2 separate regions of the Homo sapiens genome follow, and region 1 is linked to region 2. Evidence: fine-mapped expression QTL. A gene starts in region 2. The other region holds a variant in brackets. All regions are shown on one strand. Distances are from middle to middle.

Evidence for each region. PIP is the estimated chance that this variant, and not a neighbour inherited with it, causes the effect.
Region 1: its variant is the best candidate, but not a certain one, in a credible set for the expression of PATZ1 in liver (GTEx, PIP 0.59).

What each region holds. Positions count from the first base shown.
Region 1 is chr22:31,694,447-31,698,961 of GRCh38, reverse strand. The region is part of intron 7 of PRR14L (proline rich 14 like); the gene reads left to right. Among named protein-coding and RNA genes, the nearest start is that of PISD, 34 kb to the right of the region's middle. RefSeq lists an enhancer at 3,424-3,925. The variant G/A (reference allele first, on the strand shown) is at 2,422.
Region 2 is chr22:31,344,248-31,348,247 of GRCh38, reverse strand. It overlaps PATZ1 (POZ/BTB and AT hook containing zinc finger 1), which reads left to right and starts at 1,902. Exons shown (of 5, transcript NM_014323.3): 1 at 1,902-3,916. The coding sequence starts at 2,646. LINC01521 (long intergenic non-protein coding RNA 1521) reads right to left here and starts at 1,489. Exons shown (of 1, transcript NR_120386.1): 1 at 1-1,489. RefSeq lists silencers at 1,397-1,616, 1,667-1,736, 2,107-2,526, 3,077-3,146 and an enhancer at 3,967-4,000.

The sequences.
Region 1 (4,515 bases), 350 kb before region 2:
TGCATACATGAATTAAACTCTGGTATTAGACTTTTTTTTTTTTACACAGTCTCGCTCTGTTGCCCAGGCTAGAGTGCAGTGGCACGATCTCGGCTCACTGCAAGCTCCGCCTCCCAGGTTCACGCCATTCTCCTCCCTCAGCCTCCCGAGTAGCTGGGACTACAGGCGCCCGCCAGTACGCCCGGCTAATTTTTTGTATTTTTTTAGTAGAGATGGGGTTTCACCATGTTAGCCAGGATGGTCTTGATCTCCTGACCCCGTGATCCGCCCACCTCGGCCTCCCAAAGTGCTGGGATTACAGGCGTGACCCACCGTGCCCAGCCACTTTAGTATTAGACTTTTAAGAATGATTCAGAATTATTGTAAAAATCAGAACTAAATCTATTGATTTATATAAGTCTCAATGATTGCTTTCTTTTTTTTTTTTGAGATGTAGTTTTGCTCTACATAAAAAAAAAACTCATTGTTTTGAGATGTAGTTTTGAGATGTAGTTGTTGCCCAGGCTGGAGTGAGCCACCAAGCCCAGCCTGCTTTCATATTTAATATAAGAGAAAAGTATATTGGACAAACCAATTGGCAGGGCAGTTTATCACGTACTTTTTGGTATTGTTAATGGGGATAGAAGTTATAACATCTGGCCGGGCATGGTAGCTCATGCCTGTAATCACAGCACATTGGGAGGCCAAGGCGGGTATATCAACTGAGGTCAGGAGTTCAAGACCAGCCTGGCCAACATAGTGAAAACCTGTCTCTACTAAAAATACAAAAATTAGCTAGGCATGGTGGCAGGCACCTGTCATCCCAGCTACTCATGAGGCTAAGGCAGGAGAATCGCTTGAACCCGGGAGGTGGAGGTTGCAGTGAGCCATGATTGAGCCACTCCATCTCAAAAAAAAAAAAGAATTACAACATCTTATAGGATCAGATCAGAAGGGACTGACTACTTGAATTAAATATTTCATTATATGAATTGATAAAAGTTCATGCCTTAACCAAAGGAAATTACTTAAATTTTTTCTGTGGGTTTTGTACACTTCAAGTGTTTGGTAGTCCCAGTAAACATCTTGATATATATATAGTTACAGTTTGTTTGTTTTGTGACAAGGTCTCGCTCAGGCTGGAGTGTAGACGCATGATCATGGCTCACTGCAGCTTCAACTTCAACTTCCTGGGCTCAGGTGATCCTCCTATCTCAGCCTCATGAGTAGCTGGGACTACAGGCATGTGCTACCATGCCCAGCTAATTTTTGTATTTCTAGTAGAGATGGGATTTTGCCATGTTCCCCAGGCTGGTCTTGAACTCCCAGGCTCAAGTGATCTGGCCACCTCCACCTCCCAAAGTGCCCAAATTACTGGTGTCAGCCATCGTGCCGATCCCATGTATATGTTGAGTGGAACTTTTCTAAGTGATGACATATTGTTAATGAGAAGTGAGAATAGCTAGAAAAAATATTGTATATAATTAAATACACGAACAAGCTATTTTTAGTGTTTGAAGCTCTCTTTCCTAAGTAAGGTTTTTTTCTTAAGTAGACATTATTTGATGATAATCAAGGTGAACGAGGCAAAGTCACTCTGACAACTCCTTTCCATGAGATACCTGAAATCAATTGTCCAATTGCCCAAATACCCAATTTCTTTTTTTTTTTTTTTTTTTTTGAGACAGAGTATCACTGTGCCACCCAGGCTGGAGTGCAGTGGTGCAGTTTTGGCTCACTGCAACCTCCACCTCCTGGGTTCCAGTGATTCTCGTGGCTCAGCCTCCCGAGTAGCTGGGATTACAGGCACCTGCCACCATGCCTGGCTAATTTTTTGTTTGTTTGTTTGTTTGTTTGTTTGTTTTTTGAGAAGGAGTTTCACCCTTGTTGCCCAGTCTGAAGTGCAATGGCATGATCTCGGCTCATGGCAACCTCTGCCTTCCAGGTACAGGCGATTCTCCTGCCTCAGCCCCCCGCGTAGCTGGTATCACAGGCACACGCCACCACACCCAGCTAATTTTTGTATTTTTAGTAGAGACAGGGTTTCACCATGTTGGCCAAGCTGGTCTCAAACTCCTGACCTCATGTGATCTGCCCGCCTTGGCCTCCCAAAGTGCTGGGATTACAGGCATGAGCCACCGTGCTCAGCCCCTAATACCCAATCTCTAAAGGCACTCTTCTCTCTTAACTGAATAATGTGTAGTAAAGGAAAAGAAAAGCCCAAGACAAGTTTATGGTGATTTCATTAATCACTGGAAAGGGCTTAGCAAAATGAGTGTTTTGATTGATGTATCAAAGAAGAATTCAGGATGGGTAGGAGCTGTTCTGAGAGAATTTGTGGGAACAGAGAGACCTGCAAGAGCAATTCAGGACACTTCTTAGATGTATCACTTTTAGAAATTAGAGATTGAGCTGGGTATGGTAGTTCACACCTATAATCCC[G/A]ACACTTTGGGAGGCCAAGGTGGGAGGATCACTTGAGCCCAGGAGGTTAAGAGTAGCCCGGGCAACATGGTGAGACCACATTTCTACAAAAATTAATAATAAGGCGAGGCGCGTTGGCTCATGCCTGTAATCCCAGCACTTTGGGAGGCTGAGGTGGGTGGATTGTGAGGTCAGAAGTTCGAGACCAGCATGGCTAACATGGTGAAACCCCATCTCTATTAAAAATACAAAATTAGCTGGGTGTGGTGGCGTACACCTGTAATCCCAGCTACTGGGGAGGCTGAGGCCGGAGAATCGCTTGAACCCAAAAGGCGGTGGTTGCAGTGAGCCGAGATCGCACCACTGCTCTCCAGCCTGGGCAATAGAGCAAGACCCCATCTAAAAAAAAAAAAAATTATAATAATAAAGAAAAAATAGAAATTAAAGATTGAGTGGTTGATTCTCCTACAGCCGGGTTCTCGTGTACTCTGTGGAAAGTTTTTAGGTACACTAAAGACCACTGGTCTAACATATTTAGTAGCAACCTAATTTAGCTCTTAGGATTTTTACCTTAGTATTACGTATTGGTTCAAGTCCAATCAGGAGACAGAAATCACACAGTATTTTAGACAGGGGAAGTTTATTATAAAACATTAAACTATGACAGGGAGTAACCTTAAATGTAAAGAGAATCCTGAAGGGTACACTCGGGTTAAGGGAGAGTACCCTAGGAAGGGCAAACTTGGAAGGGACACCACCTCCCTCAAGGTTGGAGTTGAGACTTGGTTGGAGAAGGTGAGGTTGCAGCCCATTGGATGGGTGGGTTGCAGAGGCCAGAGCTGGGCAAGCAGGAAATAACAACCACCTTCTCAAGCATAGACAAGATAAGGCTGCTGCAGACGGAGGTAGGGCACTGCTGTGATGCAAGGCCTGGAGCATGTGGTTTTTGCTTCAGGAGAGTGACAGGAAATGACCATCAGGAAGTCAGGTTACCACTGAGGGCATAAGGCCTGGAGTGCCCTATGCGTGTTGGGAAGCCTGCAGCAAAGTGGTCGCCAAGCTAAGGCTGCAAAGTCACTGAGGGACTACATGTCCTGGCCGCACCACTAGGGCAGAGAAGCCCCAAGACACCCCAACATATATTAATCACTGATGGCCCATGGTGCAGGAGCAAGAAAAAAAGCTCACCAAACCGGAAAGAGAAGCTCCCTTCCACCTGCATTGTTCCTCCAACACCTTGTGACAAAGTTTAGCATCATACTCACTGCAAAAGAGAAATGCTTAAAGGGCCTAGGATTCCGTTATCACAGAGCAGGTACTGCAGGGCAGATTTTGAGCTGAAAAGCAATAATTTCATCATTGGCATATAGTAAACAGTAAAATTTTGATACATTATTCGCTTCACAAAGAGCTGTTCTTTTTTTGGGGGTATATTATTTGCTTGACAAATAACTGTAGGTTTTTTTGTTTTGTTTTGTTTTGATGGAGTCTGGCTCTGTCACCCAGGCTGGAGTGCAGTGCCGCGATCTGGGTTCACTGCAACTTCAGCCTCCTGGGTTCAAGGGATTCTCCTGCCTCAGCCTCCCGAGTAGCAGGGACTACAGGAGTGTGCCGCCACACCCAGCTAATTTTTGTATTTTTAGTAGAGACAGGGTTTCACCATTTTGGCCAGGATGGTTTTAATCTCTTGACCTCATGATCCGCCCATCTCGGCCTCAAAGTGCTGGGATTATAGGCGTGAGCCACCGCACCTGGCCTAATTTTGTATTCTTTTTCTTTTTTTTTTTCTGTTTTTGTTTTTGTTTTTGTTGAGACGGAGTCTTGCTCTGTCACCCAGGCTGGAGTGCAGTGGCCCGATCTCAGCTCACTGCAAGCTCTGCCTCCCGGGTTCACGCCATTCTCCTGCCTCAGCCTCCCGAATAGCTGGGACTACAGGCGCCCGCCACCACACCCGGCTAATTTTGTTTTTTGTATTTTTAGTAGAGACATGGTTTCACCATGTTAGCCAGGATGGTCTCGATCTCCTGACCTCATGATCCGCCCACCTCAGCCTCCCAAAGTGCTGGAATTACAGGCATGAGACACCGTAATTTTGTATTCTTAATAGAGACAGGG
Region 2 (4,000 bases):
ACTGCGCCCGGCCTAGTTTTGTATTTTTAGTAGAGATGGGGTTTCTCCGTGTTGGTCAGACTGGTCTCGAACTCCCGACCTCAGGTGATCCGCCCGCCTCAGCCTCCCAAAGTGCTGGGATAACAGGCGTGAGCCACCGCGCCCGGCCCCTTTCTCTTTCTCTGTGGATGTTCCCAGCAGCTCTCTCAAAAATAAAACGTGCCAGTTCCCAAAATCCGCCCAAGAAAGCTGTGGCTCAGAGAGGGAGGCACTAGCCTAAGGTGACAGTGAGTCTGGGCTTAGAACACAGATCTCCTGGCTTCGTGTCCAGGGAACTTTCTTCATGCCTCTAATTCATTCTCTCCAACAGGAGTTTGGCATGTACTATGCCCTAGAGCGGAGGTGTGCAGGACAGGTGCTGCTGTCCCTGTGCACAGGTTAAGAAACAGTTTAACTGAATCTCAGGGAGGCCAAGTGACTAAGCACCAGGACACGAAACCAGAAGGCAGAGGTCTCGATTTTGAACTCGGATCATCCGCCAGGGCAACGCCCGGAAGCCTCAGGGCGCGCGTGGCTGGGCGCGAGCTCGGCGCGCAGCGGTGGGAATCCCGAGCGGAGTTGGAAGCCGGGCCCGTTCATTTGCATGCTAATACCCAGAATGCTTTTCCCCCGCACACCGCTTCTCTTAATGGAAGCGCTCAGTTTGGAACCGTGGAAAGTTTGGAACACATACTTCGCTGCCTCTTTGCAACTGTGGGAACTTCCCGCCCGCACACGCGGCGCCTGCAGCCTGGGGCTCCGCGCCAGGCGGCCCAAAGGCAGCCGCCAGCGCTTCCTGGGAAGACAAACCTTGGTGTACAACTCTAGCGTGGTAGCATCCCCGGGCGGGCCGGGGACAAAGCGCCGAGGCCTGGCGGCAGGGCCCATTACCAGAGCACCCGGCGTCTCACAGGGCTGCGGGCGCTGGGGATGCTCCGGGCTTGGAGAGGCCTGAGGGTGTCCCCGACTCCTCCGGCACCCCCACTTCCCTGAGGATTGCTGGGGCTTCCGGGGGTCCCTGCCCCGTCCATCGCCCTCATATTGTCGCCTCCCGGAGCTGGTGACTTCACGCTCCCCGGGGACAAAGCTCGGCGTGCTGTGGTTTGGGGGAGAAGCTGGACGCTGGCTTCATCTCTCCAGCTCTTCCGGGCGCGCAGCCCATCAGATCGATCAATGTACCGGGTGCAGAAGCAGCTCCGGAGGTTCGGCCTGTCTCCGGCCAGGACCCCGGGCCCTCTCTGGTGTTTGAAGCAGGGAGGCGGTCGCAGGCGACTTCTGGGAATTTCACGCATGAAAGCGGGGCTCCGAAGGGTGGACGACGCCCGCTCGACCTGCGAGTGCGCTTCGCAGGCTGGGGGGCCCGGATCCGCACCCCTCAGTTCCTGCCCCCCCACCCTGCTAGCCGCCACTCTCAGCGGGCAGGGGAGGGGCAGTGGGAGCTGGTTTGCTGGCTCGGCGCTTCGTTTGCATTGGTCCGGGGGGGCTGAGACTGCAGCCCCCGGCCCCGCGGGCGGGGTGGGGAGGCGGGGGCCGGACGGGGGCTCAGGCTGCTCTAGCATTGGCGGATCTGGGGAATGGGGAGGGGGGGCAGGAAGCGGGGGGAGCGGACTGCGGGGGGGGGGTGTATAAATAGGGAAGGGGGGACGTGCATCCTCGTCTTGGTGAGGGGGGGGCGCTCGGCACAAAGAAAGTGTAAAGTTTGCAGCGCCAGGCGGCCCGGGCTAGGCATCCGGGCGCGCACGTGCAAGGCCGGGGACGCCGGGGCCCCCACTCTGAGCTCGCCGTTTCTTTTTTTTCTGCAAGCGAGAGGGGGGGTGTTGTTGGTATCGCCCCCTCCTTCTCCTCCCCCCAGGGGTGAAAGTGCAAGAGGAAGTGCAGCCGCTGCCATCTTTCCTCCGCTCCGAACACACGGAGCCCGGGGCCGCACAGCCGCCGCTCCGCCGCCGCCTTCTCCCGGCCTGAGGAAGGGCCTACTCTGCCGCCGCCGCCGCCCGCCCGCTCCAGCCGCCGCCGCCGCCGCCACCGCCCTCCAGGCTCCGGGACCCGGCCCGCGCCACCGCCCCCGTGCGCGCCCCGCCGCCGCCGCCTTCGCCTTCGCCTTTTGTTTCCTCCGCTCCGGCGCCCCCGCCCCGGCTCGCGCTTTGCAGGGGACGCAGCGCGCGCCCCCAGCGGGCCCGGGAAAAGCCGCGGCGCGCGCGCGCGCCTGCGCGGCGGACCCCTCCTTCTCCTCCCCGCGTGCGCGTGCCCTTCTTGGCTGCGCGCCGGCGCCGCCTGGCGGGCGGGAGGGGAGGTGGCAGGCGCGTTTGCAGGAGGGGCGCACCTCTTCGCTCGCGCACCCCCCCGGAAGGTAGACCGGGAAGGGGAGGCGGGCGGGCGGAGAGGAGAGAGTGGCGCGCAGTCCAGCGAGGGCGGGGGTTGGCTATGTGGGGGGTGGTGCACCCCGCAGTCTAGACAGTCTGATCCGGGCTGGGGGCGTGTACACTCGGCGCACCTGCGAGACTACAGAGCCTCGGGCCGGCACGTGTGGGGAGTGTGGACACGTCTGCTGCGCCCCGCTTCTCGCTGCTGAGGGGAAGGGAGGGGGCGGGCAGGTGCAGCGGCCGGGCTAGTGGGAGGGGGCGGCGGCCATGGAGCGGGTGAACGACGCTTCGTGCGGCCCGTCTGGCTGCTACACATACCAGGTGAGCAGACACAGCACGGAGATGCTGCACAACCTGAACCAGCAGCGCAAAAACGGCGGGCGCTTCTGCGACGTGCTCTTGCGGGTAGGCGACGAGAGCTTCCCAGCGCACCGCGCCGTGCTGGCCGCCTGCAGCGAGTACTTTGAGTCGGTGTTCAGCGCCCAGTTGGGCGACGGCGGAGCTGCGGACGGGGGTCCGGCTGATGTAGGGGGCGCGACGGCAGCACCAGGCGGCGGGGCCGGGGGCAGCCGGGAGCTGGAGATGCACACTATCAGCTCCAAGGTATTTGGGGACATTCTGGACTTCGCCTACACTTCCCGCATCGTGGTGCGCTTGGAGAGCTTTCCCGAACTCATGACGGCCGCCAAGTTCCTGCTGATGAGGTCGGTTATCGAGATCTGCCAGGAAGTCATCAAACAGTCCAACGTACAGATCCTGGTACCCCCTGCCCGCGCCGATATAATGCTCTTTCGCCCCCCTGGGACCTCGGACTTGGGCTTCCCTTTGGACATGACCAACGGGGCAGCCTTGGCAGCCAACAGCAATGGCATCGCCGGCAGCATGCAGCCAGAGGAGGAGGCAGCTCGGGCGGCTGGTGCAGCCATTGCAGGCCAAGCCTCTTTGCCTGTGTTACCTGGGGTGGACCGCTTGCCCATGGTGGCTGGACCCCTATCCCCCCAACTGCTGACTTCCCCATTCCCCAGTGTGGCATCCAGTGCCCCTCCCCTGACTGGCAAGCGAGGCCGGGGCCGCCCAAGGAAGGCCAACCTGCTGGACTCAATGTTTGGGTCCCCAGGGGGCCTGAGGGAGGCAGGCATCCTTCCATGCGGTCTATGTGGTAAGGTGTTCACTGATGCCAACCGGCTCCGGCAGCACGAGGCCCAGCACGGTGTCACCAGCCTCCAGCTGGGCTACATCGACCTTCCTCCTCCGAGGCTGGGTGAGAATGGGCTACCCATCTCTGAAGACCCCGACGGCCCCCGAAAGAGGAGCCGGACCAGGAAGCAGGTGGCTTGTGAGATCTGCGGCAAGATCTTCCGTGATGTGTATCATCTTAACCGGCACAAGCTGTCCCACTCTGGGGAGAAGCCCTACTCCTGCCCTGTGTGTGGGTTGCGGTTCAAGAGAAAAGACCGCATGTCCTACCATGTGCGGTCCCATGATGGGTCCGTGGGCAAGCCTTACATCTGCCAGAGCTGTGGGAAAGGCTTCTCCAGGTGAGGAAAGGCCCCCTCTTCCTCCCCTGCCACACGTTATCTTAGTCCTGAAAAGGCTCCTGCCAAGATCTGGGGGTGTGGGAT